Homo sapiens: one gene and its partners. The protein of the gene in region 1 purifies or fractionates together with the protein of each later gene. This does not show direct contact. Each region holds a gene or a part of one and is shown in the gene's direction. Other genes may lie near its edges.

The links.
Region 2: the proteins of TSSK1B (region 1) and GAPVD1 purify together in Homo sapiens (affinity purification with mass spectrometry; 3 studies listed by BioGRID and IntAct, with this or other methods). This does not show direct contact.
Region 3: the proteins of TSSK1B (region 1) and GPHN purify together in Homo sapiens (affinity purification with mass spectrometry; 4 studies listed by BioGRID and IntAct, with this or other methods). This does not show direct contact.
Region 4: the proteins of TSSK1B (region 1) and CEP131 purify together in Homo sapiens (affinity purification with mass spectrometry; 3 studies listed by BioGRID and IntAct, with this or other methods). This does not show direct contact.

The regions. Positions count from the first base shown.
Region 1 is NC_000005.10:113,432,053-113,439,632, reverse strand, and holds TSSK1B (testis-specific serine/threonine-protein kinase 1), read left to right. Parts: upstream 1-4,643; 5' UTR 4,644-4,793; coding exon 4,794-5,897; 3' UTR 5,898-7,080; downstream 7,081-7,580. UniProt on the Homo sapiens protein: Testis-specific serine/threonine-protein kinase required during spermatid development. Phosphorylates 'Ser-288' of TSKS. Involved in the late stages of spermatogenesis, during the reconstruction of the cytoplasm.
Region 2 is NC_000009.12:125,257,871-125,264,830, forward strand, and holds the start of GAPVD1 (GTPase-activating protein and VPS9 domain-containing protein 1), read left to right. Parts: upstream 1-3,955; 5' UTR 3,956-4,089; exon of another isoform or gene 4,090-4,090; intron 4,091-5,665; exon of another isoform or gene 5,666-6,231; intron 6,232-6,960. UniProt on the Homo sapiens protein: Acts both as a GTPase-activating protein (GAP) and a guanine nucleotide exchange factor (GEF), and participates in various processes such as endocytosis, insulin receptor internalization or LC2A4/GLUT4 trafficking.
Region 3 is NC_000014.9:66,504,105-66,511,172, forward strand, and holds the start of GPHN (gephyrin), read left to right. Parts: upstream 1-4,042; 5' UTR 4,043-4,423; coding exon 4,424-4,487; intron 4,488-7,068. UniProt on the Homo sapiens protein: Microtubule-associated protein involved in membrane protein-cytoskeleton interactions. It is thought to anchor the inhibitory glycine receptor (GLYR) to subsynaptic microtubules.
Region 4 is NC_000017.11:81,191,947-81,198,975, reverse strand, and holds part of CEP131 (centrosomal protein of 131 kDa), read left to right. Parts: intron 1-4; coding exon 5-99; intron 100-678; coding exon 679-861; coding exon of another isoform or gene 862-870; intron 871-1,087; coding exon 1,088-1,264; intron 1,265-1,920; coding exon 1,921-2,046; intron 2,047-2,149; coding exon 2,150-2,275; intron 2,276-3,024; coding exon 3,025-3,141; intron 3,142-4,003; coding exon 4,004-4,106; intron 4,107-4,848; coding exon 4,849-5,050; intron 5,051-6,132; coding exon 6,133-6,240; intron 6,241-6,382; coding exon 6,383-6,500; intron 6,501-6,583; coding exon 6,584-6,658; intron 6,659-7,029. UniProt on the Homo sapiens protein: Component of centriolar satellites contributing to the building of a complex and dynamic network required to regulate cilia/flagellum formation.

The DNA.
Region 1 (7,580 bases):
AGCTATCTTCAGTGACATGAGTCTCTAGCAGAAAACTTACGACTGGCCATTGGATTTTGCTTCCTAGTGCTTCAAGTTGTGAGGTAGGCTAGGACACTGAGAGACCTTCTGAGGGTACTGACCATGTTATATTCATCTCTATCTTTTCCAAGGCATTTGTCATCTAATAAAGGTTTGTTCTTGGCCATATTCATTCATTTCTCTGTGTTTTGTTCAAATGCCATTTCCCTTTCCTGTATCACCTATGTACATCTACCTTTGCTTCAAGGCCTCGTGTGTCTCATCACCTCTGTGAAACCCTCCAATTGTCCTTTGTGAGCCACTTGAAATGTACTCAGCATGCTTCCACAACCAGGTCTAGGACTTGACTGGCACTTCACTCTGAGCCTGCTGTTTACCACCAGACTTGCTCCCCGACACTCCAGCTTTGGCCTGCCTAACTGGTCAGCAACCCAGGCTCCTTATACCTTTTCCAAATTAAACCATGGAAACATTTCTGTCTGATCTCTTGGAATTTTCAACCTGGTTTTCAAAATTTGTTTCCTTAGCTCAGACTTTGACCCTGCATTGTTATGTTCCTGGTGTCCTTTGGTTTCAGGAACTGTGCTCTTAGAAGACACTGCCTCAACACCGTATCCTGGGTGACCTCCCAGCCAGGGGATCCTGCCCAAGGAAGCTCTAACACCTTCCTGGGCAACCCCAGCCCTCTGATTTTTTTTCTCTCCCATAAGCTTAGGCAATTTACTGCAAAATCAGTACTTTAAAAAATCTACTTAAGTTTCATATTTTATATATTATGACATTCATATCTATATTCTAGTGGTTTCTTCAACTAAATAACAAATTTTTAGAAGGTGATGCCATGTCGTAGTGTTTTTAGCTTCCCTGTAGTGCTTAGTAGTGTTAAGAAAAGTATTTAACAGATACTAGAAAATAGTTTACAGGATCCCGTCTGGGATATTCTAAGGTATAATAGATCTATATTATACTGAATATTATTTTGTACATAACTTGGGCCCAATGGAGTAGAATGCCTCTGCTTTAGACCATTATGATGTCATAAGAGGTGATATACCAGGAATCACCATGTCTAATCCTCACAATCACTTTAAAGTGCATACCTATTTTGCATACCTTTTTTCCTTATATACTTTTCCTATTGCCTCTGTAAGATAACTAGGTAAATTAGATAACTTCATCTATTTTACAGATCAAGTTACTTTCCGAGAGTCACACTGTACTAATAAGATGTGGCCCCTGGGATTTAAAACCAGATTTATCTGCCCCGTGTCTGATGCTCTTAATTGCCTCAGCTCCTACAACTCACCGTACGGCAGATGGAACCCTTGATAACATGTCTTTAGATATAGAATAAAAAAAGTTAGGTGTCATTCTATAGGACCTTAACAATTTCTAGTTAAAGACTCCCCCCACAACCCAAAAATAAGGAAAGTTAGGGGAAAGAAACACAGGTCACTTGCCTAAGGTCACAAAATGAGTTGTCAGAGCCCTAGGACCAAGGATTGGCTCTCCTCTCATGCATTTTGCATTAGAAAACTGCTTTTCTTCCCAGATTCTCAGAGTTCTGCTTGCTCTTTCACTAGGTCCCATAGACTGGTGATACTGACAACTTCAGCATCGATTTTAGGATGCCTTCCCAACCTATGGGATGGTATCCAAAGAGAATCCCACATGGCACTGAAGGAGCAGACCTGAGATGTGAAGCAGGGAGCTGGAGCCCTTTACCACTCCTGCCAAAATTCCCTGTACAGCATATATTTACCTATTCACTCTACCCAAGAGCAACCAAATCCATAATAAAATGCCTTGGTCAGGGCTTTCAAATAACTCAACTATCTGGGATATAGATAAGGAGCCTTTTGAATTTAAAGCATCTAAAGAATCAAAAGACAAAAAGGGGGTGGGAGAAACTGCCGAGTAGATTTTAGAAATATATCTCAGGGAATTTTGAGCCAAAATAGAAATAATTCAAGTGCAGCACTATTTCTCCTTCATCTCCAGGTGTTTTGTATGTCTATGTGTGAGTGTATGTGTATCATCTGTTGCCCAGATTTTTGTAAAATGCAAATAAATGATCCTGTCAGTTTAGGATTTTAGATACAATATTTCTACATAATCCCAAGGTAATTATCATTTTGAGTGAATACCTCATACCTCATTGTCTTTATCCTTGGAAGACATAGAACATAACAGGGGTAAAGGAGCAATGGAGGAAAATGAATTTTTTTTCTCTCCCTTTCTTTGCGATGATCACTCAGCCAGTGTTTATGACTGTGTGTAAAGCTCTGTGCTGAGGGCAGCCAGGGGACACACAAATGAGAAAGCCCAATTTGCAAGAAGCTGTCTTCCCTGCTCTCTCTTGCATTTGCCTCTGCTTATCTTTCCCTATTGCCTTTGTAGGATAACTCAATAAAGAAAACAGCATTGGGACCAAAATAAATTTTTTAGCATTTAATTACAAAGAGTAAACATAACATTGGATATTTTTCATTGTAGACAGCAATATAGATAAACTTTTTTTTTTTTTGAAGAGATTTCTTCTGAGCCAATATGTGACTAATGGCCCAGGACAGCCCCAGAAGATCCTGACAACAAGTGCCCAAAGGGATAGGGCTGCAACTTGGTTTTATACATTTTAGGGAGGCACGAGACATCAATCAGTGTATGTAAGGTATACATTGGTTCAGTCAGAAAAGGAGGGACAACTTGAAAGTGGGAGGCGGGCTTCTGGGTCATGTGGATTCAAAGATTTTCTGATTGGCAATTGGCTCAGAGAGTTTATCTAAAGACCTGGAATCAATAGAAGGGACTGTCTCTGGGGTAAGAGGTTGTAGAGACCAAGGTTCTTAGGCAGATGAAGCCTCCAGGTATCAGGCTTCAGAAAAAACACACTGTTAAATGTTTCTTATCAGACTCTAGTTAATTATCTCAGGAGAAAAGAGCTAGAAAGGGAAGGGGATTCTTCACAGAATGTAGATTTTCCTCATAAGAGACAGCTTTGCAGAGCTATTTCAAAATATGTCAAAGAAATCTGTTTGATAGTAAAATACTTCAGTTTCTTTCAGAGCCTGCTGTATCTTACTGCCAGAGTCTGTTGTCAGTCTTCAGGTCTCTGTGTCGATGTTACTGCTGCTCAGCTGTGCCTGAAACCTGAAGGGAGGAGGGATGATGAGGCCTGCCTGACCCCTACTTTCTATCATGGCCTGAACTAGTTTTTCAGATTAATTTTGGAATGGCCTTGGCTGAGAAGAGGGGTCCATTCAGATGGCTGGGGAGATTAGAATTTTATTTTTGGTTTCCAAGAGACAGCACTTGGGGTTTCCCCAGCAGGAAGGAGAAGGAGGCTGTCTGGAGGAAGGAGCACCAACCACGCACAAAGGACTGGCAGTGGGCAGTCAGAGTTGGGGAACAAGGTGAAGGAGCAGAGAAAAGGGAGAAGGGCCACAGCTGGTGGTGACCCAACCCAGCCTGAGCGACATCCAGCTCTACTAACTCACTCCTGAAGGGCCCAGGGTTCCACCTGGCTCATGTGAGGAAGGAGTTCTCACTCCCTCTAGGTGGATGAGGCCAAAGTCAAATCCAAGGCTAGGACAGTCATGCAACTCCTTCTTCCTGACGGTGTGGCCCAGAGCAGGTGCTGGACACAGAACCAGTCACAGCAGAGGCTCCACTGCCAGAAGAAATGATGGTTGCTGTCCAGTGCTTCCCCTGCTGCTTGTAATGTCCTCAGAGCAGCTGCCAGTGCTCAGGGTGGCATCCAGGCCCCACCTTCAGCCCCCAGCCCCAGATATGCCCTGGGAGCCCAGCCAGGGCCGTGAGCTGGGCAGGTCCCCAGGAGGGAGCTCACAGCCAAGAGCAGAACTCCTGCCAGCTGTCCTCCTACAGAGCTGCTGTAAGAAGCCAGCAAAGGCTCAGACAAGGGAAGAGATGTATAGGGAGGCGGCAGAATCCAGGCATCTCAAACTGCGTGACTCCGGGGCCAGGAAGCTGTCTACCTTCTTGACACACCACTCTTCTTGGCCCTGCTCTGCACTCCTGAGGGTCACCTGTGTGGACAGCATCAAGGGCTGAAGGGGAGAAAAAGAAGTCAGGGATGGGACTTCCTCCCATCCCCTGCCAGCCTGTAGGGTCACTGAGGCTGGCTTTTTCTCCCCTGAAGGCCACTGCCTCTCTCAAGGTGGTCCTGTCTACACTACTCTTTCTGGGTTCCAGGGACCATTCCCACCCTTTTCTATGCAGGCCAGGGGTCTGCTACTATCTTGGGGTAATTGTGTGACCCTCAGGGTTCCCTACACTCTGCTCCCACCTTTATTAATTGTCCCTTTATTAAATCCTCCTCAGATGCCCTGGTTTGCAAGAATTGGCCTCAATTCTGCACAAGTATGCCTGGCTCTGGGTTTGGAAGCATGGGCAGGCCCATGTGTCCCACACAGTCCCCTTCTACCTCAGGTCCCAGCAAGACACGAGGCCACTTTCTGCTCATCTTGTCTGCTCCAGCCTACTGGCCAGCCTTCCAGGATTCCAAGTCCAAGTGCCTCAGGCCAGGGTCTCATTCCCCCAGGGCACTCCTCCTTTGTGACTTCACTCGCTGAAGTCATCTGGGAGACAGTGCCAAATGTTCCACTCCAGAGTCTTGGCCTCTAGGAGGCAGGAACAGCAGGCCTGGCCAGCCCAAAGGACTCTCTATCCAGGATGTAAATGAGCACACTGCTGGCCCATGCGCCTCGGGGCTGTAGAGGGCAGCCTCAGAGGCACTGGGCATTCCTGGCACCATGGATGACGCTGCTGTCCTCAAGCGACGAGGCTACCTCCTGGGGATAAATTTAGGAGAGGGCTCCTATGCAAAAGTAAAATCTGCTTACTCTGAGCGCCTGAAGTTCAATGTGGCGATCAAGATCATCGACCGCAAGAAGGCCCCCGCAGACTTCTTGGAGAAATTCCTTCCCCGGGAAATTGAGATTCTGGCCATGTTAAACCACTGCTCCATCATTAAGACCTACGAGATCTTTGAGACATCACATGGCAAGGTCTACATCGTCATGGAGCTCGCGGTCCAGGGCGACCTCCTCGAGTTAATCAAAACCCGGGGAGCCCTGCATGAGGACGAAGCTCGCAAGAAGTTCCACCAGCTTTCCTTGGCCATCAAGTACTGCCACGACCTGGACGTCGTCCACCGGGACCTCAAGTGTGACAACCTTCTCCTTGACAAGGACTTCAACATCAAGCTGTCCGACTTCAGCTTCTCCAAGCGCTGCCTGCGGGATGACAGTGGTCGAATGGCATTAAGCAAGACCTTCTGTGGGTCACCAGCGTATGCGGCCCCAGAGGTGCTGCAGGGCATTCCCTACCAGCCCAAGGTGTACGACATCTGGAGCCTAGGCGTGATCCTCTACATCATGGTCTGCGGCTCCATGCCCTACGACGACTCCAACATCAAGAAGATGCTGCGTATCCAGAAGGAGCACCGCGTCAACTTCCCACGCTCCAAGCACCTGACAGGCGAGTGCAAGGACCTCATCTACCACATGCTGCAGCCCGACGTCAACCGGCGGCTCCACATCGACGAGATCCTCAGCCACTGCTGGATGCAGCCCAAGGCACGGGGATCTCCCTCTGTGGCCATCAACAAGGAGGGGGAGAGTTCCCGGGGAACTGAACCCTTGTGGACCCCCGAACCTGGCTCTGACAAGAAGTCTGCCACCAAGCTGGAGCCTGAGGGAGAGGCACAGCCCCAGGCACAGCCTGAGACAAAACCCGAGGGGACAGCAATGCAAATGTCCAGGCAGTCGGAGATCCTGGGTTTCCCCAGCAAGCCGTCGACTATGGAGACAGAGGAAGGGCCCCCCCAACAGCCTCCAGAGACGCGGGCCCAGTGAGCTTCTTGCGGCCCAGGGAATGAGATGGAGCTCACGGCTTAAAGCCCAAGCTCTGAAGAAGTCAAGGGTGGAGCCAGAGAAGGAAGGCAGTCCCAGATGAGCCTCTATTTTCATCAGCTTCTTCTCTCTCCCCTTGAACTTGGTAACCCACATGGTTCTCCCGTGGCCCCTAGGTGGATGAGGCCAAAGTCAAATCCAAGGCTGAGACAGTCGTGCGACTCCTACTCCCCCAGAGCGTGACCCGGAGCAGGTGCTGGACACAGAGCCTGTCTCAGCAGAGGGTCCCCACTGGCCGCAACGGCTCAGTGACAGCAAGAGCAGGAAGAGCAGCAGGAAGGCACCGCTGTCCACCTTGGGCACCATTTATCCTCCTTTCATCGTCCCCGGGGCAGTTGCGTGACCCTGCTGGGAGGCCAGACCGGGCCAGACTGAGGGTCAGGGGACCAGGCTGGGTTGGGGGTTGGGTGGGGCTGGACGGGGACGAGGCGCGGAGAGGCGGCGGGAAAGAGCTTCGGCTGGGCCACGGGCTCGCGGGCACTCTCGGCGGCAGCCTCGGGGGCTCCGACTCCAGCTCTGGGCAAGATCCATAAACTTTTAAAGAAGCCTCAAAACATACTTTTAAAGCATTAAGCTTTAAAGTGCTAGAAATCTTGTGCCCCATATGTGCTTCTTTCAGTATTATCCTAGATCCTCAGGAGTAGCATGGCAACTGGAGAAAATGGGAGGAAAGACAAGAAGAAATAGAAGCTGATTTAACATCAAGTTTATTCAGTTTTGATTTTTCTTATCTCTACTGGCTTTCTCCTGTTCAAACCTTGCAGCGATAATATTTGGAAAAGAGCACTTGGAAATTATATTCCTGTTTTTAACTCTTTATATTTAATCATTCTCCTTGTAATTGATTTTGTAGCTAATTTACTCCCCAGCACCCCCAGAAGAAAATTTTACAAAGGAAAATGTTTTATTTTTATTTTTTCCTTATCAACTTTTTATTTAAATGCTAATATCCAATTAATGGACAAACGAATCAGCTAATACTGGAAACAATGTAACAATAGTGAAAAGCATGAACTTTTGATTTCTATAGACCGAATTTGACTCTGCTACTAAATGATCTTGGGCAAGTTGGTTAATCTATATGTCTCAGTTTCTTTATCTATAAAATGAGAATAATACAACTTCATTAGGCATGCTATTCATTAATGTGTTTAGTTCTCATAACCCTATGGGAGGGGTCCTATTATTATTCCCATTTTATAGACACGAAATTGAGTAAAGTCAGTTTAGGTCACTTGTCTCTGAGCACATGATAAATACGTGGCAGAGCCAAGGTTAAAGCCCAGGTACACTCCAGCTCCGAGCCAACACTGTTAGCTGTTTTTTTTTCTTTTCTTTTTTTTTTTTTTTTTTTTTTTGAGACAGAGTCTCGCTCTAGCCCAGGCTGGAGTGCAGTGGTGTGATCTCGGCTCACTGCAACCTCTGCCTCCCGGTTCTGGGTTAAGCAATTCTCCTGCCTTAGCCTCCTGAGTAGCTGGGATTACAGGCACGTGCCACCATGCCCAACTAATTTTTGTTTTTGTTTGTTTGTTTATTTGTTTTTTGAGACGGAGTCTCGCTCTATCTCCAGGCTGGAGTGCAGTGGCACGATCTTGGCTCACCAAAACCTCCGCCTCCCGGGTTCAA
Region 2 (6,960 bases), on another chromosome or scaffold:
AGCTACTCTGGAGGTTGAGGCAGGAGAATCACTTGAACCTGGGAGGCGGAGGTTATGGTGAGCTGATATCGCGCCATGGCACTCCAGCCTGGGCAACAAGAGCGAAACTCCATAAAAAAAAAAAAAAAAATTAGCCGGGCATGGTGGCCCGAACTGTAATCCCAGCTGTTCGGGAGGCTGAGGCATGAGAATTGCTTGAACCTGGGAGGCGGAGGTTGTGGTAAGCCGAGATCGTGCCATTGTACTCCAGCCTGGGCAATAAGAGCGAAACTCTGTCTCAAAAAAGAAAAAGAAAAAGAAAAATTAGCCAGGCATGGTGGCGTGCACCTGTAATCCCAGCTGAGGATTAGGCATGAGAACTGCTTGATCCCAGGAGGTGGAGGTTGCAGTGAGTTGAGATCATTCCACTGCACTCCAGCCTGGGCAACAGAGTGAGACTCCATCTCAAACAAAACAAAACAAAACAAAACAAAAAACAAACAGGCGAGCCCAGCACAGCGGTGCAAGCCTGTGGTCCCAGGTACTCAGGAAGCTGAGGCATGAGGATCCCTTGAGCCCTCACGATAGCACCTGTGAATAGTTACTGCATTCTAGCCTGGGCAACATAGCAAGACCTATTTCTAAAATAAAAATGTAGACAAATTATTACATTCTAGGCAGTACGCCCAGTGGTGAATAAGATGGAGTCTGCGCCCTCAGGGACTATGTGTTGGTTTAAATTTTCACCTCAAGTTAACATTTGTGATTCAATATAAGTGATGAAGTTTGGGGGCCTTTGAGGGACCTGGGGATAAAGTGTTTTTTTGTCCAGAAATACTTGCCAGAGGCCCCTTAAATCACTTGGCCATAGCATCTGCTTTCTTGGCTTACTTCTAAGACTGGCTGTGTACACATAGAAGGAAAAAGAACATTAAAAAAAATGTTTTGCGATTCTAAGGCAGAGTAGTTTAATAGAGTATGGAGTTGGGAGGCTGAAGAACTAAACTCTACACAAGGTCCAGTATGAATTTTGTGACCATGAACAAGTAACTTCATATCCTTCTATGTCAGGGAAGACTGAGTTGTGTATGGAAAGAAAGGGGCTTTGGACAGAGTTTACTGTGTATTCATCCATTCATTTAAAAAACAAAAAACAAACATTACATTCTAGGCAGTATGCCAGGTTCTAGGGAGACAGTGATCTGCCCTCAGTGAGTACTACTTATTGATTTTGAGCAAATTTTCACCTCTTGAGTTTACTTTCCCATTTGTAAAAGGGATGAAAATAATACCTATTCCATATTTCCCAAGAATCACTGTTGTAGTGATCCATAGTTCTAGCAGGAGATTTGAATTCCTTGAGTGTGCTGACTGGAAAAAAAAAAGAAAATTGCTTGTTAGTTCAAGTTCTTCATTTGTAGGTGACAGAACAGGGCTCAGAAGATTAACTGACCATTCTAGTTCCTTTTTTACTTCTCACATGCAATGCAGCTTCCCTGAAGATTCTTTTGCAACTTTTGGGGCCTCTCCTTCCCTTCCTCCCTGGCCTGGGTGCTCCAGCCTACCCAGACGCAGTGTTCCAGAGCCCACTGTGAATGTGGTTTTGCTAAGGCTGAGTTCTTCCTTAGCAGTCCACGAATGCCATCTCTTGTCTTGAAATCCAGCCATCCAGTAACTCCTAACTGTCACCTCTTCCATAAGGTCATGAACCCTCAACTTGAAAAGGCCATTCTCTCTGAGAATCTCAGAATGCTTTGTACCTTGGCTTATTATGATGATCCTTAATCTGTGGCAGTTTCATCCTACCCTAGATTGTAAATTGTATCCTCTTGCTTATTTCTTTTCTTTTTTTTTTTTTCTTGAGACAGAGTCTCGCTCTGTCGCCCAGGCTGGAGTGCAGTGGCACGATCTCCACTCACTGCAAGCTCCGTCTCCCGGGTTCACGCCATTCTCCTGCCTCAGCCTCCCGTGTAGCTGGGACTACAGGCGCCTGCCACCATGCCCGGCTAATTTTTTGTATTTTTAGTAGAGACAGGTTTCTACCGTGTTAGCCAGGATGGTCTCGATCTCCTGACCTCATGATCCGCCCACCTCGGCCTCCCAAAGTGCTGGGATTACAGGCGTGAGCCACTGCGCCCGGCCTCCTCTTGCTTATTTCATGCCAGCGGTGCATTGAGTAATGTCTTGTAACAGAGCTGATTGAATTCCTGAATGAGTTGAATGGCAGCACGATAGCAATAACATCTGACCAGCCTACCATAGGTGGTTCTATTACTACCTATGTAGTCATAAAACAAGGCAATAAATATGAAGCAATTCTGTCAATGTTGTTGTTGCTGTTTTGTTTTGAGACAGGTTTCACTCTGCTGCCCAGGATGGAGTTCAGTGGCATGATCACAGCTCACTGCAGCCTTGACCTTTTTGGGCTTGGTGATCCTCCCACTTCAGCCTCCCTAGTAGCTGGGACTACAGGTGCAAGCCACCATGCCTCGCTGATTTTTGTATTTTTTGTAGAGTTGGGGTTTCACTATGTTGCTCAGGCTGGTCTTGAACTTCTGGGCTCAAGCAATCCTCCTGCCTTGGCCTCGCAAAGTGCTAGGATTATAGGCATATGCCACCATGCCCCTAAAGGTGACATCAAGAGAGGTGAGTAGATAGAAAGCAGTTTGGGAGTTGATTGACATTTGAAATAGCTGGGGAAATGATTATTACTTTTTTCCTTTTTTTGCCTGGAGACTCCCAGTATTGGAGGATATAATCATTGTTCTCAATTTTTTGAAGATCTGTCAAGTGGAAGACATTCTGTATTGCTCCAGGCAGCCTAACTACCAGCAATGGAAGGAAATAAAGGGAAACAGATTTCAGCTCAGCAGGAGGCAGAACTTTCTAACATTTAGAGCTGTCCAACAGTGGAGCAGGCTGCATTACTTGAGGGAGTGAGCTCCCTGAAATTTGAACTGTTGAACAGGAAGATGACCATCTGGCTGAATGTACAGGAGGGAATTCCTGCCTGGGCAACAGTTGCACTAGTGACCTTTAAGCAGGTATCTTCCAATTTTAAGGTTTCTAGACTGTTCAACTCAGCTAACTTGACCTCTGAATATATGAGTTATGGTGTTACAAAAATTATTAGACAGTTCATTTATTGACTTACCTAAAATAACTGCATGGTGAAGTTTATGATAAGCAAGATTTTAGAAACTGAGAAGTGGGAAGGCAGGTTTTACACTGAAAATCCAGATACCATCCAAACCAATTAATGGCACTTAGAACAAAAGGGAAGGGAGGGGCCGGCAGCGGTGGCTCACGCCTGTAATCCCAGCACTTTGGGAGGCCGAGGCGGGCGGATCACGAGGTCAGGAGATCGAGACCATCCTGGCTAACACGGTGAAACCTCGTCTCTACTAAAAATCAAAAAATTAGCCGGGCGTGGTGGCGGGCGCTTGTAGTTCCAGCTACTTGGGAGGCTGAGGCGGGAGAATGGCGTGAACCCGGGAGGCGGAGCTTGCAGTGAGCCGAGATTGAGCCACTGCACTCCAGCCTGGGCGACAGAGCCAGACTCCGTCTCGAAAAAAAAAAAAAAAGGGAAGGGAGGTTTGTAAGTAGTGTGTGCGTACGTGTGAGAGAGAAACAGAGAAGAGAGAGAGTCATTCATGCGAATAATGTGTCCTGGGCAACTGAGCGTTGTCACAGAAAGCATAAAACGCTCTACATTTTTGCTTTACACATACTTGCTCAGTCGGATTCTTCACGTCCAGCATTACTGCAGGCGGAAACCAGGGCCCAGGCCTGGTGAACAGCCTTCCGGAAGACGATTCCGGACCCGGACACCCACGACAGCCTCAGGGGGCAGCTGACCTAGGGCTGCCTAAGGCGGAAGTGGGAGCCCCTAGCCGCCCGGGCGGAACTACAGCTCCCAGAGGCCCCCGCGGCGCTGCGCACGCGCGCTGGCGTGGCGGCAGCGCCGCTGCAGGACGCAGGGAAGCCAACAGGCGAGTGGCGAAGGTGGCGGCAGCGGCGGCGGGGGCAGTCACCGGCTAGGGCGACGGCTCCGAGGCCGAGTGGCGGTCCGACAGAGTCCTCCGTGTCCTCCCCCGCATGACCCCCTTGGTGAGTACGCGTCCCGATTTAGTCCGCGGGCTGTGAGCGGCTCCCTGCCTCGCGGCCGGGTTGCTCCGGCCTAGGGCCGCAGCCTGTCTCTGACTGCCCGGCCGTCAGGTCCAACTGACCCCGGGGTCCTGGGCTCTTCCCGTCAGTGTCGGGCGAGGTGGGGGTCGGGGGACACTGGGTTAGACCCAGGGGAGAGATGTGGCGGCGCGCAGGAGCCAGGGCGGCCTGGGGCTGAGGAGAGGGAGAGACGCGTGGGGGATGGGATGGGAAGGGACAGGAGGACCGCGGGGCGGCCTCGGGTGGGGGCCAGAGACGAGAGGCCCGGCAGGTAGGGAACTGAGTATAGGAGGCGAGAACGAAATGGAATGTCTTCTGAGTGTCGCTGATAAAGATATCGTGCTGCAGGGAAGCTTGACAAGCTGGACACACGGGTCTGGGGGCAGCCCACCTAACACAGACACTCACTGTACTTGGCATCTTTCCACTTGCTGTCGGAGGTCTGAAAGTGAGGGAGCTGTTGGTTGTTTCCATCCCTTTTCTTTTAACTTCACCTTTTATTGACTGGCAAAATTGTAGTGAGTGCTGGCTAGGCAAACCACAGAAGTACACCCAGGGTTCTGTGTATAAATGTGCATAAAAACAGGGAGACATAGTGATAGGTTCAGATGAGAACTAGGTCAAAGGAGGAATCAGTGTTTTTATTTTTAAATTTATGACGAAAATCAGTTCTGAGCAGGACTTTGAACTAGAGAGGGGTTTTAAACTGGAGTTCATTGATGGATAGAATTAGAAGGGTCCTTTCACTAGAAGGAGGATAAAATGACATCATTATTTTTATTGACTGCTAACTGAAACTTATTATTTCCTTCAGTTACGAATGTGGACAACAAGCCAGAGTAGCATTAGCAGCGCCTATGACTTTGTGATCAATAAAAATTACGGATATTTTTGCATCATGTTTACAGTTGCAGATAGCTCAGAATATCATTTATGGTTAACACTTCTTTGAATTTCTGGTGTTACTAGACCCGCCGTTAGACATTGTTATTTAATGTGATAATAAGGCTGTACATATATTATGACCATATTAGTTTGTTGTTTTGCTAATATTTCCATATAATTGGTTTCCCTTGTAATCACATGTATTTAATTATGCACTTAAAAGAAATCTGAGAAAGGGACCATAGGCTTCACCAAACTGCCAATGAGGTCCGTGCACAAAAAGATTAAGAACTCCTGAAATAATTTGGGAGGCCGAGGCGGGCGGATCATTGAGGTCAAGAGATCGAGACCATCCTGGCCAACATGGTGAAACCCCATCTCTACTAAAAATACAAAAATTAGTTGGGTGTGGTGGCCCATGCCTGTAATCCCAGCTACTTGGGAGGCTGAGGCAAGAGAATCACTTGAGCCCGGGAGGTGGATATTGCAGTGAGCCAAGATCACGCCACTGCACTCCAGCCTGGCAACAGAGCGAGACTCCGTCTCAAAAAACAAAACAAAACAAAAAAACTCCTGAAATAGAAATAAGGTTTTTTGGATTTATAAGTCTACTTAGAAGAACTGTTGTTTTTTTTTTTTTGGTTGTAAGTTTATTCAATGCAAAAGAATCCTCTCCAATTTTACTGAGGTGGCTGACCACGTCCACGACCAAATCCGTCTCAACTGGAATTTGGCTGCTGACCCAGCCCCAGCCTCAGCTTTCTTGTCGGCACTAAGTGGCACAGCACTCCATCTGTAGGTATGTCTGTCAGCACTCCATCTGTAGGTATGTCTGTCAGCTTCCCCTCTTGTGAGTCTCGCAGGTCACTCACCCTCCAGACCTTTAGGCTGAGGCCTGCCGGTCTCTGGACAGCTATGGCGTAGGGTAGCAGGTACAGTCTCCGGGGGGCAGATGAAGGTAATCCCGGAGATACTGGATACCCTCATTGGTAAGGTACCAGTAGAAATGTCTCCAGGCAAACTGTTCCTTCATGTAGCCTTGAGACTTGAGAGACTGCATGGCCTTCATGACATGAAGGTTGGGCACGTTCTTGTCTGCCAGCTCTGGGTGCTTAGGCATGTGGACATCCTTCTTGGCCACCATGACTCCCTCCTTAAAAAGGAGTTCATAAATGGCAATCTGGTTCTTTAGAAGAACATTTGAATCATTGAAGGCAGACAGGATGACAGTGTAGACGAAAGAGAATTTCATAATCAGGGAGATAAAAAATTTGGATGGGATCAGGGTAGTCTTTTGTTTTGTTTTGTTTTGAGACGGAGTCTGGCTCTGTTGCCTAGGCTGGAGTGCAGTGGCATGATCTCCGCTCACTGCGACCTCAGCTTCCTGGGTTCAAGCGATTCTTGTGCCTCAGCTTCCTGAGTAGCTGGGACTACAGACACCAGCCACCACGCCTGGATAATTTTTATATTTTTAGTAGAGGCAAGGTTTCACCATGTTGGTCAGGCTGGTCTCAAAGTCCTGACCTCAGGTGATCTGCCTGCCTCGGACTCCCAAAGTGCTGGGATTACTGATGTGAGCCACCGCGTCCTGCCCAGAGTAGTCATTTTGAAAGAATAGACCATAGATATTTCATTCAGGGTAATGGGGAATGAACAAAATAATCGGAAGAAGAAAGAAAAGTGAATATGTTGGCCTTTAAATTTTTGTATTAAGGCACCTCCCCACTTCCAAGGGATTGCAGCTCTGTAAGCTCTAATGTAAGCCTGAGAAAAGAAATTTTACTGTTTGCTGGTTTTCTTTAAATCATGGAGGTGGATTTTTTTTTTTTTTTTCTGAGATGGAGTCTCAGGCTGTCGCCCAGGCTGGAGTGCAGTGGCGCGATCTCAGCTCACTGCAAGCTCTGCCTACCGGGTTCATGCCATTCTCCT
Region 3 (7,068 bases), on another chromosome or scaffold:
ATATTTTGAGAGACAGAGCCCACATTAACATAACTTTTATTACAGTAAATTGTTATAATTGTACTATTTTATTATCAGTTATTTCTGTCAATCTCTTACGGTGACTACTATATAATTAAACTTTATCATAGGTATGCACATGTAGGAAAAGACATAGAGGAGAGTCTGGACCCAGAAAAGCCCAATGAGATTTGGCCTTGCTTATACTGAAATTGTGGGCCAGGCGCGGTGGCTCATGCCTGTAATCCCAGCACTTTGGGAGGTTCAGGCAGGTGGATCACAAGGTCAGGAGATCGAGACCATCTTGGCTAACATAGTGAAACCCCGTCTCTATTAAAAATACAAAAAATTAGCCAGGCATGGTGGCGGGCGCCTGTAGTCACAGCTACTCTGGAGGCTGAGGCAGGAGAATGGTGTGAACCCGGAAGGCGGAGCTTGCAGTGAGCCGAGATAGTGCCACGGCAGTCCGGCCTGGGTAACAGAGAGAGACTCCGTCTCAAAAAAAAAAAAAAAAAAAAAGAAAAAAAAGAAATTGTGATTAACCACAGAAAAACTAAGAGTTAACTGGTGGGCTAAGTGTAAATATACCAGTACTAGGAAAAAACTAACTTCAGGCCGGTCACAGTGGCTCACGCCTGTAATCCCAGCACTTTGGGAGGCCGAGGCAGGTGGATTACCTGAGGTCAGGAGTTCAAGACCAGGCTGGCCAACATGGTGAAATCCCATCTCTACTAAAAATACGAAAATTAGCAAGGCATAGTGGCACACACCTGTAATCCCAGCTACTCGGGAGGCTGAGGCAGGAGAATTACTTGAGCCCAGGAGACAGAAGTTGCAGTGAACTGAGATGGTGCCACTGCATTCCAGCCTGGCTGACACAGCAAGACTGTCTCAAAAAATAATAATAATAATAATAACTTCATTTCTACTGAAATATAAAGTTTCATTCCATGATAATTGTAATGAAAGCCACATGTTAACCTATTTTTTTTATGTTGTCTTGGATGGTTAATGGCAACTCTTGTAGTTTTCATGATGAAAACCCTAAGAATGGAAAGAATAACTCCCTGGGCACTTCTAATTATTTACATACAAATTCCCACCCCAACCCACACCACACCCCATGTCCCATGTTTCCTGAGACATTTATCAATATTTGGAAAATGGCACTCTCTCCTACCTTTCAGAAAATTTTCTTTGGCATAATATTGATTCCAGGATGAATTCTGAAGAATGTCACACTGTAACAAGAGTAATAGTGTGTACATATTATAATATTCATTCAATAACCATCAGTAAAAGTTCACTCTAGACAGTAAAGTCACTGCGTTTTTCCTTTGTAAGGTTTGTAAAAGGTTGCTGAATTTGAGAAAGATGAATACACTTAAGAAAAACGGTTGAAAGACAAGCATTATAATTTAGTTCCATTATTATTTTTTAGGAATTTTAATACTTACAGTCAGTAAAACATAATGAATGTTAATAAACCTCCATATACTTTAGAACAGGGGTCCCCAAACTCTGGGCCATGGACAGGTACCCATCTGTGGCCTATTAGGAACCAGGCCACACAGCAGGCAGTAACCATTACTGCCTGAGCTCCGCCTCCTGTCAGATCAGTGGCTGCATTAGATTGTCATAGGAGCATGAACCCTATTGTGAACTGCGGATGCGTGGGATTTAGGTTGTGGCTTCTTATCAGAATCTAATACCTTATGATCTGCAGTTTTCTAGAACAGCTTCATCCCGAAACCATCAACCCTCCCCATCTCCATCCATGGAAAAATTGTCTTCCACAAAACAGATCCCTGGTGCCAAAAATGTTGGGGACTGCTGCTTTAGAAAATTTAATTCATATCCACCCTTCCCACTTAAATTTTAATGAATTTAACCATCACCCCTTTTATGAATGCAGAAAGTTAGTCTCTTGTCCTCTTATTATTGATTTGTGAAATAAAGTGCCAGTTTTCTTCCATGAATAATTACAGAATATTCTAATTAAAGGAGTGCTTATTTAGTCTACCACTATACTTAAAAGGTACTTATTTAGTCTACCATCTTATTTAAAGGATGAAGGAAAAGGCCCAAATTTGTTTAGGGTCACAACCTGTTAGTGGGCAGGTTTAGACCTTACGTCTAAGATAGATGTAAGACAGACGATAAGCTCAAGATATTTTCTAATCATTTAGAGTGTGTTGCAGAGAATAGAGATAGGTTAGGAAGATAACAATATAACCAACTATTTGCTCTTCATGTTTAGTTTGAGATAACGGAAATCATTCTCTTGGACATACTTTCTTATCTTTATCTCTCATTTCAAACTAGTTAACAACCCGTTGGCCACCAGGATCTAAGGTGACAATGATAGGGAATGAGTTCATGACCTGGCTTAAATTTTTAATTACTGTCAAAAATACCAGCAATACACATACTAAAAACAAAAACAAAAGCAAAAAAGCCATTAATTTATTTTACCCACTTCAATTCCATCCATCATCTACTTTTAGGCCCCATTATTTAAAATGAAATACATAAGCACGTGAATCTTCAGAGGATGGGTAATTTCATGTTCCAACGGAACAATAAAAAACTCATAATCGGCCAGGCACGGTGGCTCACACCTGTAATCCCAGCACTTTGGGAGGCCAAGGCGGGCGGGTCACGAGGTCAAGATCTTGATCGAGACTATCCTGGCCAACATGGTGAAACCCCGTCTCTACTAATAATACAAAAATTAGCTGGGTGTCGTGGCACGCGCCTGTAGTTCCAGCTACTCGGGAGGCTGACGCAGGAGAATCGCTTGAACCTGGGAGGCAGAGGTTGCAAGTGAGCCGAGATCGCGCCACTGCACTGGAGCCTGGCGACAGAGCGAGACTCCGGATCAAAAAAAACCAAAACCAAAACCAAAAAAAAACCTATCAAAGTGACTTTGAAATTTGTGTATAAACACTGATATACATCTTTTAATACTTTGCTTTTCACTTTTATGCCTCCAGGTTACTACAGCTAAGAAGAGAAAACATATACATATGAGTGTGTGTACACACACACACACGCATATAACTTTTTAAAATTCAGAAGTTGAAAGGTCCAGAACGATAGTAAGAAACTAACGTAGAATAGCCACAGGTGATTAATAACACGTTTCATGAAAGGCACATGGAAATAAATGGCAACAAAAGCTACTTTCATGGTAATCTCACATCCCACGAATACTGAAATGAAAATCGCCGCGGCAATGGACTGTGGTTCAGGTGGAACACGTTCTCGTTCGCTAAGGAGATTGATGCTTTTCATCTAAAAGCAGCGCTCATGGCGAAGAGGCTTAAGGCCACAAAACCGTGGGACAGCAGGAGGAAGAGAAGCCAGGTATCTCCACTCCAGCTGCCCTGCCTCAGACTCCTCAGTTTCGCACGTGAGGATCGTCTTGCAGGCACTGACTGGAGATGGAATCCTAAAGCATAGGTGAAGCGGAAATCCTCCTTCAGGGAGAGCCCACTGAGGAAGCCAGCGGCTAGCACGAGGCAGGACAGGATACCTCCCTCTTCGCCCACGGCGGCCTCTCTGTCATAGTAGCCACCGTTCTGCCACTCATGCAGCTTTCTAAGACACCTCTCGGTTCCCCAGCGCTTTCAGTGGGGCGGCCGGCCATTCCCGAGGGTTGCAAGAGGAGGCCCGGGGTGCTGAGCCAGCCTCGCTGCCCCCGCGTAGAAAGCCGGCCCGCCGGCGAGAGCCAGCCTAAGGCGCGGACAACCAACGAGGTGTCAGGCTCGGCAGGGGATTGCTTCTGTCTGGGGCCCGGCCGAGGTTGCGTTCGTGCCTCGCGCGCACACGCTCCGCGTTCACTCAGCCAATCCGGTGCTACTCGCGCGCCCAGGAGCGATCCGCGGTCCTACTCAGGCTGGGCCGGCTCCTTCCCGCTCCCAATACTCAGCACCCGAGCTCTCACTCCTCCCCTCACTCTCCACGAGTTCCACGCCTAGGGGTGTAGCTCCGCCCTTGTCCCCGAGTCCGCCCCCGCAACCTCCAGAGCGTGTGCTATCCTTTCCTCTCAGTCCTGCCATCTAGCTGCCTTGGGTCTCGCGCTCCGCAGAGCGTTCCGACACTCTCCGGCCTCGTTCTGCCGCCTCCGCGCGCTCTCCCCGTGCGGCCACCGCGCCCCCCAAGCTTGCCTCCTTCTTGCCGGACTTGGGGCCGCGCGCCCTGACTCCTTCCCCTCCCGCGGACCCGCGCACTCCCGGCGCGGCCTCTCCCCCACGCAGGCCACCGTGCACTCTGTGGCCTCCCCCTCCTTCCCCGCTCTCCTCGCGCTTCTCTGGCTCCCTAGCTGTCGCGCTCTCCTCGGCGAGCGCGCTCCCGGCCCGCGCGCTCCGGGCTCCGGTTTCTCCCGGCTCCTGTCAGTGCGGTGACTGCGCTGGGAAACATGGCGACCGAGGGAATGATCCTTACTAACCACGACCATCAAATCCGTGTCGGAGTCCTTACAGGTAACCGGGGGAGGAGGTCTGGGACCTATGAGGCTGCTGTCCCTGCATTGCCTTAGGCTTTTCGCCTGTGGTGGCCCTTCTCTGCGGCCTCGGGAGGAGGGAAGGCTGAAGAAGGGAACCGCGGGGGTGCATTTTACAACCGCTGAGAACCGCCGGAGATTGGGGGTGTTCCCGCGGGTCCCCTCCCCCAGGCCCCAGGAGCCGGGGTCGACCCCGTGGGATGTTAGGCCCCAGCGCCTTCGGAAGCAAAGTCCTGGGCCCCCGGGGACCGAGGGGCCGGTGCGGAGGGCGCTGCGGGGCTCCGCGCTGTCGGTGCAGGCGGCGGGATCCCGGCTCCGCAGTCTGAAGCATGCCGCTCTCGGCTGGCCTGGGCGCATCCTCCGCTAGTGCTCTTCAGAGAGAGGGGGGAATCCCATCTCCACCCCCTTCCTCTCCTTCCCTTCCCCCCACCTGGGCGGCCCCACGCCAGTATCTGTGCTTGCCTGGACGAGACTCAGGTGTTAATCAGATGAAACTGCTCCTCCTCGGGTTGTCCCTCGCGGGCCGGGCGTCCCCTCAGCCACCCATGGGGCACCCTTCGCCTCCCTCGGGGGATGGGGGATCGGCTTGCGTCCGGACCTCGGAAAGTGTCTGCCTTCTGCCTTTCCGCGCAAAAGGCCCTCTGTCTGCCTCGTCGTTTCCTTAGCGAGGACGGGCTGCAGCCTGCTGCCGGGGATCCAGCTTTTTACTTGAGAGGGCAGGATTCCCCTACTCGGGCTCCTCTCCCCCTCCTTTCTGGGAACCCCCACCCCGGTAGAGCGTCCCGAGGCTGGTGAGGAGCGCACTTTTCCCGGGTCGCGTTTCCCTCCCTCGCGAAAGCCGTGTGTGTTCTGCATGTCTGATTCCGTTGCGCTGAATTTGGTTAATATCCGTCACTTCGGCGATCGGCAGTTGCTGCAGGGCATGACTTCCAAGATGAACAGCAAGCGGATTTGTAGGGGTTTCTGCTGTGGTTCTGTAATTGGCAAGGTTTATGTGTAATTGAGTGGCGAGACGGGGGTTAAAGAACTATATTTGGAATCTGAGGGCTTAGTTTGGAGTGAAGGAAATCCAAGACTCAGTGATGTGATTTCGGAAAAAGAAGCAGTGTGGACGGGAATCCTAGTGTTTCCCTTACTTCTTTTTTTAATTTTTTCTTTAACTGTCAAATTCTGACAGGTCGAGACGGTGCTCGAGAAGGGACTAAATTGAATAAGACTTGCTTTTATTATTAGGTAGAAAAAAAATGTCTGAGACTGCCGGCAGATATTGAGTGCAAAGCTTAATTTAGCTGCTGAATTTTATGAAAAGGTGATATCCAAAGCCTCCTTTTTTCTCTTTTAAGTAAAGGATTGCCTTTCCCTGGTATTCTTTCCGTATATCGATGGTGATTAATTGAATTTTCCTAATTAAAAGACCCTTGGATAGAGAAACTAGTCTAAACCAGTTGCAGAAAAGGGAACCCCCAAATCAGAAGGTGCGCTGTTCTCTTCTTTTGGTCCTGAAACTGTTTGGGTATGTGAAGATTCAGTTGTATTTCAGAATTCCTGGAGCTGACATTGCCAATTTTCGAATAATCTGATGGTGGGATGTCAAAGTGTATATCTTTTATCTACCCTCAACTTGCACTTTAAATTCCAGCCATTCTTTGACAATAATAGAGTAGTGAGAAACCAAAATATGTCAGTTGTCTGTGGAAATAAAAAAGGCCATAGATGTTTAAAAGTTAAACCGTAGAAACATTTTTAAAATGAACATTTTCTACTTAAGCTTTCCATTAAATAATAGTTTCATTTAACGAATCAACTTACCTTTGTGAAGTGACATAGCAGATAGGTGTTGTACAGACTGCTTTGAAAGATGCAGCCCTTATCTGGTGTCCCTACAGTCTAATATGGATAACATTGATACGCAAACAAATGAAGAAACATTGTATGTAATTATTGTGCAAAACTTTTCTAAATACATTACCTATGAGTTTGGGGTTAACTGCAAAAGAAATTCCGTATTCAGATGGATTAGGAGAGAATGTGACTACCTGAAGGGAGAATTTAATACATTTACTAGGTCAAGAAGAAACTGTCAATTTTAAGGGGAGTTGAAAGTCAGCAGCCACTTTATAAATAAATATATAGTTGATGATGAGGCTTCTGAGCTAAATAAAAATGCAATGTAAAGGCCTTGAAAAGCTGAAGTGGAATGGGTAGGTGGCATAGGTAAAATGTTAGAGAGAAGGTAACATTAACATTGACAGTGGAATTAAAGACAGTCAGGGGAAGCCGTCTCATGAGAATGAGGTACAGTAGTCTAGGGGGAAAAGTCTAGGGCCAGGAACAAGGATGTAGCTGAAGGAATGAAAAGGCAGCTACAGATTTGGAATAAGTGATAATAGAGGAAAATAGGTTTTGATGATAACATGTATATTTGAAGTCAGAAGTAACTCAGGCTTTTTCTTGAAAGTTGTTGATACAGATATTGTCTACTATGATGGAGAGGAAAGAAAACTGATTTTTCTCAAGTCTGTAACTAGTGGGTTTCATTATCAACAGCTTAATTTCTGTGG
Region 4 (7,029 bases), on another chromosome or scaffold:
GCAGGTGGTGGCCTCCCTGCTGCAGGCCCCGGAGACCGCTGCCTGCCCACCTCCGACTCATCCCCAGAACCACAGCAGCCTCCAGAGGACAGGACGCAGGTCTGAGCACAGCTGTCCTTCACTCCATCATGGTTTTTGGCTTTAAGGGCCATGTCTGTGCCAGGGGTGTCCTGAGCTGAGCTTCTCCCAGCCCCTCCTCTGCTCTAGGGGCCACTTAAGCTCAGAGAGGCCACCCAGGAGGTGTCTTCTTGCTCTGATGCATGGTGCTGGCTGCCTCTTGGGGAGCCTTTGCTGGGGTGGATCCAGTTGGGTTTTTGCAGATGTCCTGGGGTGGGGGGCCTTGCATCCTCATCCACAAAAGAGGAGCTTCCGGCTCTGAGGGGTGACCTGACAGCCAAGGCTCCCAGGCTGCTCAATGGTGGGGCCAGGTGGCTGCACTCCTGTTTTCCTGGAGTGGGGCACTGGGAGGAGTCCCCTGGTGGCTGGAGCTGCTCTGGGTTTGAGCAGCTGCAGAGACCGGGTGGGAAGGTCTGAGCCCTGGCCTCACCTTCCTGGGGCTGAATGTCGGGACTGGGGAGCTCCCGCGGCGCCTTTGGGGCTCTGCGGTTGGCCTCCTATGTGGGGGCTGCTCTCAGCTACCAGCAGCCTTGCTGCATCTGTCTCCCTGCTCTTTTGCAGGACGTTCTTGCCCAGGATGCAGCTGGGGACAACCTGGAGATGATGGCCCCGAGCAGGGGGAGCGCCAAGTCCAGGGGGCCACTGGAGGAGCTGCTGCACACACTGCAGCTGCTGGAGAAGGAGCCGGACGTGCTGCCCCGCCCCAGGACCCATCACAGGGGCAGATACGCCTGGGCCAGCGAGGTGACCACGGTGTGCGCCCGCCCTGCACAGTCTGTCCACCCACGCCATTCACACAGAGCATGCGGTGGCTGTGGGGGTTGGGAAAATGGGGATGCCACAGGCTCCTCCTGGCTTTAGTCACAACCCTCCCTCCCAGAGCCCAGCCTCAGCTGCCACCTCTGCCTTTGGGGAACCCAAGTCCTCAGGCTGCCCTGACAGCCCCCGATGCTGGGCTCCTGTCCCACAGGAGGATGACGCCAGCTCTCTGACAGCTGACAACTTGGAGAAATTTGGAAAACTCAGTGCGTTCCCCGAACCTCCTGAGGATGGGACGCTGCTATCGGAGGCCAAGCTACAAAGCATCATGAGCTTCTTGGACGAGATGGAGAAGTCTGGGCAGGACCAGCTGGACTCCCAGCAGGAGGTGGCCCCTCACCAGCCCGCACCCGGCCCCCAGTGGGAGGAGGCCCCTCACGAGCCTGCACCTGGCCCTCGGGGGAGGAGGCCCCTCACCAGCCCGCACCTGGCCCCCAGGGGGAGGAGGTCTCTCGCCAGCCCCCACCCGGCCCCCAGCAGGAGGTGGTCCCTCACCATGTACCCACCTAGTTATGCAGCACCCCCCACGGGTCTCTCAGGGTGGAGGTGGCAGGGCCCGCATTCCCCATACTGCCCCCACCTACCCGCTGCCCCGAGCTGCCTCCACGAGCCCATATGTGTGGATAGTTCAGCCCTCTGGAGCCCTGCTGTCCTCTGGGTTGGTTTGTCCTGGGTGAACACTAGCGGCCAGGCTAAATGGAGCAGTGACGTGAACTTTATTGTCACAGGGCAGGAAGCTGGGCAGCATAGAACTTTTTAAATGGTTTGTTTTTTATTCCTGAGGCCACGGCCCCCATTTCCTGTACTGAGCAATGAAAACGACCTCTGCTGGGCCGCCTGCCACCTGCCCTCCGGCTTCCCACGGGCTCCCGTGTGCAGCAGCCCCTCTGTCCCCAGAGGGCAGGGCCGCAGGGGCATCGTGTCAGGTCCTTGGCTGCCCCCCGTCCTCTGCCGCTTCCGCCTGACGCTCGGCTGTGTCTGCAGGGGTGGGTGCCGGAGGCGGGGCCGGGGCCCCTGGAGCTGGGGTCCGAGGTGAGCACGTCTGTGATGCGGCTGAAGCTGGAGGTGGAGGAGAAGAAGCAGGCCATGCTGCTGCTGCAGAGAGCGCTGGTAACGCTGCTGGCACTGCTAATCCCGGGCCCTGCTAGCCTCCTACCTGCTGAGGCCAGGCCCACCGGTCCTAGCGCTTCCCTCCTCTGCCCACACCCTGCAGGCGCAGCAGCGAGACCTCACGGCCCGGCGGGTCAAGGAGACAGAGAAGGCGCTGAGCCGGCAGCTGCAGCGGCAGAGGGAGCACTACGAGGCCACCATCCAGCGGCACTTGGCCTTCATTGACCAGGTGAGCGGCCCGGGGAGCGCAGAGGCCCGGACCCAGCGCGTGGCTCATGGAGACTTCCAGAGCCAGGGGCTTCCCACTGCCAGGGAGCTTCTTCCTCTGTTGGGTGTCACACGGGTGTCCGCTGGACGCATTCCAAGCCTTTCCCATGCCATTCCCAGCCATGCATGCCCTGGAGAGGGCACTCCTGTCTTTATCCAGAGCCGCCCCGTGTGAGTGTAGTGGGGTGTCCTGCCGGCCCCTCAGCTCAGTCGCAGCCCCGGTTGGCTCCTGTTCTGAAGAGAAGAGACCTAGAGTTGGTCTGGGGTGTGTGAGAATAGGGGCCTCCAGGGCTGCTTGATAGTTGTCACAGGTGTGTCCTGACCTGGGGTCTGGCCTGGGGCCGGCAGTGAGGCTGGTGTGGTCCTGACACCCTTTGGCAGACAGTGAGCCTCCTCCAGGGCTGGGTGATGGCCTCGGCAGAGCTACCCTCATCCCAGGAAGACCCTGACATCACTGCAGGGGGTGGGCTGGGGCTTCTCTGACATTCGCCGGGTCCCCCAGCTGAGGACAGGACGGCGGATGCAGGCCTGGGCCCGTGTTTGCACACGTGCCCCCCCACTGGCCCCAGGGTCCATCCACAAACCTAGGAGGGGCAGCCCCAGGGGAGGGCTGCTGTTAGCCTCCCTCGGAGGCTGGGAGGGTCTCCTCCATCAGGGGTCCTGCTGGGCTGGGGCCTTGGTGTAGCACCTCACCTCCGGTCCCCAACACAGCTGATTGAGGACAAGAAGGTCCTGAGTGAAAAGTGCGAGGCTGTGGTGGCCGAGCTGAAGCAGGAGGACCAGAGATGCACCGAGCGTGTGGCCCAGGCACAGGCGCAGCACGAGCTGGTGAGGCTTTGCTCCCTACTGCACGGCGTCCCAAGCCCGGCTCACAGGCCAGGCTCAGCTGGCACAGCCCCCAGAACAGGACCGGACTTGGAGTCCTCATTCCTGTCTCGGTGTGTCAGGGCCACAGCGGTGGGTGGGGCTGTCTGGGGGAGCACCGTGGCACCGAGCTGGTCCACTCCTGCCTCTCTAGCTGCCAGGCTCTGGGGCGGGGCCGTGGGCCTGCTGTCACAGATGTGGACGCACAGTCCCTGCCCGGCCACAGCACGGTAGCCGTGGACCCAGGAGCCTCTGCCTGGTCTGCCCCACTGCCAGGTCCTTGGGCCATGGGACCTGCTCTCTCTACTGACCAGGTGTCGGTGGAGCATTGACTCCCCGCCCCTTCCCGCTGTGTGAGCTCCCTGGGGGCCTCAGCCTCCCTGGCTATGCTTCCCACCAGCTTGGGCAGTGATGGTCCCGAGCCCAGGTTCTGGAGTGGGGCTTGGCACTGGCATTTTAAAATCCCTGCACGTGACTGTGGCTGACAGCCGGGGTTGAGGACTGCCAGTCCCATGGAAGAATGCAGGCTCTGGGGCCGTCCCGACAGGCAGCAGCACCCCTCTCTGGGGCAAGGCCTCTGCAGGCTGATGGCTGCCCTCCCATGTCTCAGGCCACCAAGGTGTGTGGCAGGGTGGGCCTGGGCCTCCAGCCTGGCCCCGGGCGCTGGGGAGGGCAGCAGTGGCTCTGTCTCGGGGCAGCACACCCAACCATGAGTGCCGGCCTTGTGCTGGTGGACCTGGAAGCCCGGCCCTGACTGTGCCCACAGGGTGGCAAAGGGACGGGGGTGTCCTTCGTGTCGTTTCCTCCTGCCCTGTTCTGCTCGTAGGAGATTAAAAAACTCAAAGAATTAATGAGCGCCACCGAGAAAGCCCGCCGGGAGAAGTGGATCAGTGAGAAAACCAAGAAGATCAAGGAGGTCACTGTCCGAGGTGGGCCCTCCCCTCCCATGAGCCGGCCAGGTGTGGGGTGGGTGCTGCGGCCAGGGCTTCTTTTGAGAGAGCCATAACTTCAGGCATTCATGTAGTCCGAGACCTTCCTGGGCAGAGGTGAACACTCATGCCCCAACCACCCCCGTCACGGCCTCCGCTGCGGCTTCTGCCGTGACCCGGGGGGCAGGTGGGCTCCACACAGGAGCCTGGCCCAGCCCCCAGCATCTAGGCAGTTGCCTGAAACGAGGGGGCTCAGTGCCTCACTTCCTCAGGGTTGGGCTAGGGGAGATTGGGAGTTTGTGGACGACTGTGGCACGTGGGCCCTGCCACGGGAAGCAGAGTGAGCCACAGGAGGAGGCAGGGGCAGGCAGGCGGATGGGGCAGGAGGCTGGTGGGTGTTGTGGTCTGAAGGGGCCTCGGACCCTTGGGTGATGTGCAGGGCTCCCCGAGGCCTGGTCCTCTCGCTCTGGACACCTGCCAGGGTGCCTGGGAGCCGTCAGTGGTAGCACCAGGAGTGTCAGGAGCCCTGAGCCCCACAGGCTGGGAGAGGCGCCGTGGCCCTGTGGGGGTCTCTTCCCCACCTCGTGGGCGTCAAGACTCAGCTGTGCTTCGGGTTGGATCCAAGGAGGCCCTGGGTGGGCGGGGTCCCCTCTGGGCCTGAGACAGGCTGGTCTTGTGCCAGGGTTGGACTTCCCGGGCCCACCCTAGCTGGACGTGGCCCTAGCTGGTGCCCCGCCCCCAGGTCTGGAGCCCGAGATCCAGAAGCTGATTGCAAGGCACAAGCAGGAAGTGCGGAGGCTCAAGAGCCTGCACGAGGCGGAGCTGCTGCAGTCGGATGAGCGGGCCTCGCAGCGCTGCCTGCGCCAGGCCGAGGAGCTGCGGGAGCAGCTGGAGCGGGAGAAGGAGGCGCTGGGCCAGCAGGAGCGCGAACGTGCTCGGCAGCGGTGGGTGGTGGCCCCAGGCCGGTGGGGCCAGGACCCTCAGGGCGGGGAGTCGGAATCCTCGAAGGCTGGAGTGGAGTTCCCATGTAGAGGTGGGCGAGGGTCTTAGTGCAGCATGCAGGGAGGACGCAGGGCCCTTGGCCCTGGAGTGGCCCTTGGGGGCCCAGCCTCAGCCGGGCCAGTGTCCTCGGGCTTGTGTCTGCAGTTCATGCCCGCCGAGGTCTGCAGGTTCTGCATGGGTGCACGGGTGTTTTCCCAGGGTCAGGGCTGGGAACCCCCACCAGACATCCACTCTTTCACAACTGGCCCCAGAGCAGCAACCCGTGGATAGGCGGCCTCGAGGCCCCTCCAGCTCTGACCTTGGGGCCCAGGGACGGTCTCTCTCATTCACTCCCTTGGCCTGGGGTCTGAGGGGTGACTGCTGCTCTTGCGTCCTGAGCCCTGGGGGCTGGGGACGTGCCCAGTGGTGGTCAGGATCTGCGGGCCACAGGGGGCAGTGGCAGCCCCTCCTGCACTGTCTGCGCCACCAGGACAGCCTGGAAGCCACCCTCTCCTATCCACCCTGTTGCCTGTCGTGGCTGGTCCTCCCCAGATGCAGCTTGGCTGGTCCCCCAGTCTCTCCTCGAAGGTGGGGTCAGGACGAGGCCCTGGCGCGAGCTTGCTCAGGTCACGGAGCCAGGCACCTGGCACCCTCAGGCCGGAGGCAGGGGAGGTGGATAAGGCCCCACGAGGCACCTGCCTCCCGCCCTCCATGCCCGTGGGGCAATGCTGAACAGGGTGAGGCCGGCACACGGGCTGAGGGAAAAGGGGGCCTGGACGCGGCTCCACAGCCACTTCCCAAAGTGCCACGAGGGCCTGGAGCTCAGGGAATTGCTGCGCTTGGCTGATGGGCAAGTTCCTCGTGGCCTTGCCTGCCCCCGGGCGGTGGCTTTGAGGGGCCTTGACTGCCGAGGGGGAGGGGCAGGGCCCCGGAGGGCTGCTCTCCAGCTGTGAGTCAGGCCTGTGGTCGGCCCGTGCCCCTGCGGTGGGTGGGTCCTGGGACCGCCCGTCCCGGCCCCCGAGAGCCAGTCCTGACCGTCCCGCAGGTTCCAGCAGCACCTGGAGCAGGAGCAGTGGGCGCTGCAGCAGCAACGGCAGCGGCTGTACAGTGAGGTGGCTGAGGAGAGGGAGCGGCTGGGCCAGCAGGCAGCCAGGTGCCGCCCGGGGGCACCACGCCCTCTCCCAGGGACCCCTCGCTGGCTGACCCCTCCCCCCCGCCCCCTCACCCGCTGACCTCTCCCATCCCTGACTCCTTACTCGATGACCCCTCACCTGCTGACTCCTCCCTGGCCGCAGGCAGCGGGCGGAGCTGGAAGAGCTGAGGCAGCAGCTGGAGGAGAGCAGCTCTGCACTGACCCGAGCCCTGAGGGCTGAGTTTGAGAAGGGCAGGGAGGAGCAGGAGCGCCGGCACCAGGTCTACCACCGGAGGGCTGTGCTGGGCCTGGCCAGGGGGCTGCACGGGGTGGGACTGACTGGCCTCTTATGTCCGCCCCCCAGATGGAGCTGAATACCCTGAAGCAGCAGCTGGAGCTGGAGAGGCAGGCGTGGGAGGCCGGCCGCACCAGGAAGGAGGTGGGGGCCTGGGCACCCAGGTGGGCAGGGGTTGGGGGCTGCCCTGCGTGGGCAGGAGTTGGGGGCTGCCCCAGGTGGGTTTTGCTGCTGCTGTGGCATCCTGGGGGCTCGTTTCTGGGAGTCACATCTGGCTGCTTGGGGTTGTTGTCTGAACTGACGCTGAGTGTGTTGCTTTCAGCCCATCTTTTGCGTGGGCTCTGGAAGGATCAAGGGTGCCTGGAGCGCATCCTCTGTGGTCCGAGAACAGGCGTTGCCCCTCTCGCTAGGGGCTGCTACACCCCTGCGCCCCACGACCAGCCCACTGACACTCAGATGTACCGAGAGGGACACGCACAACAGGGGCTCCCCCCTTAGCCTCTGGGGCCTTCTGT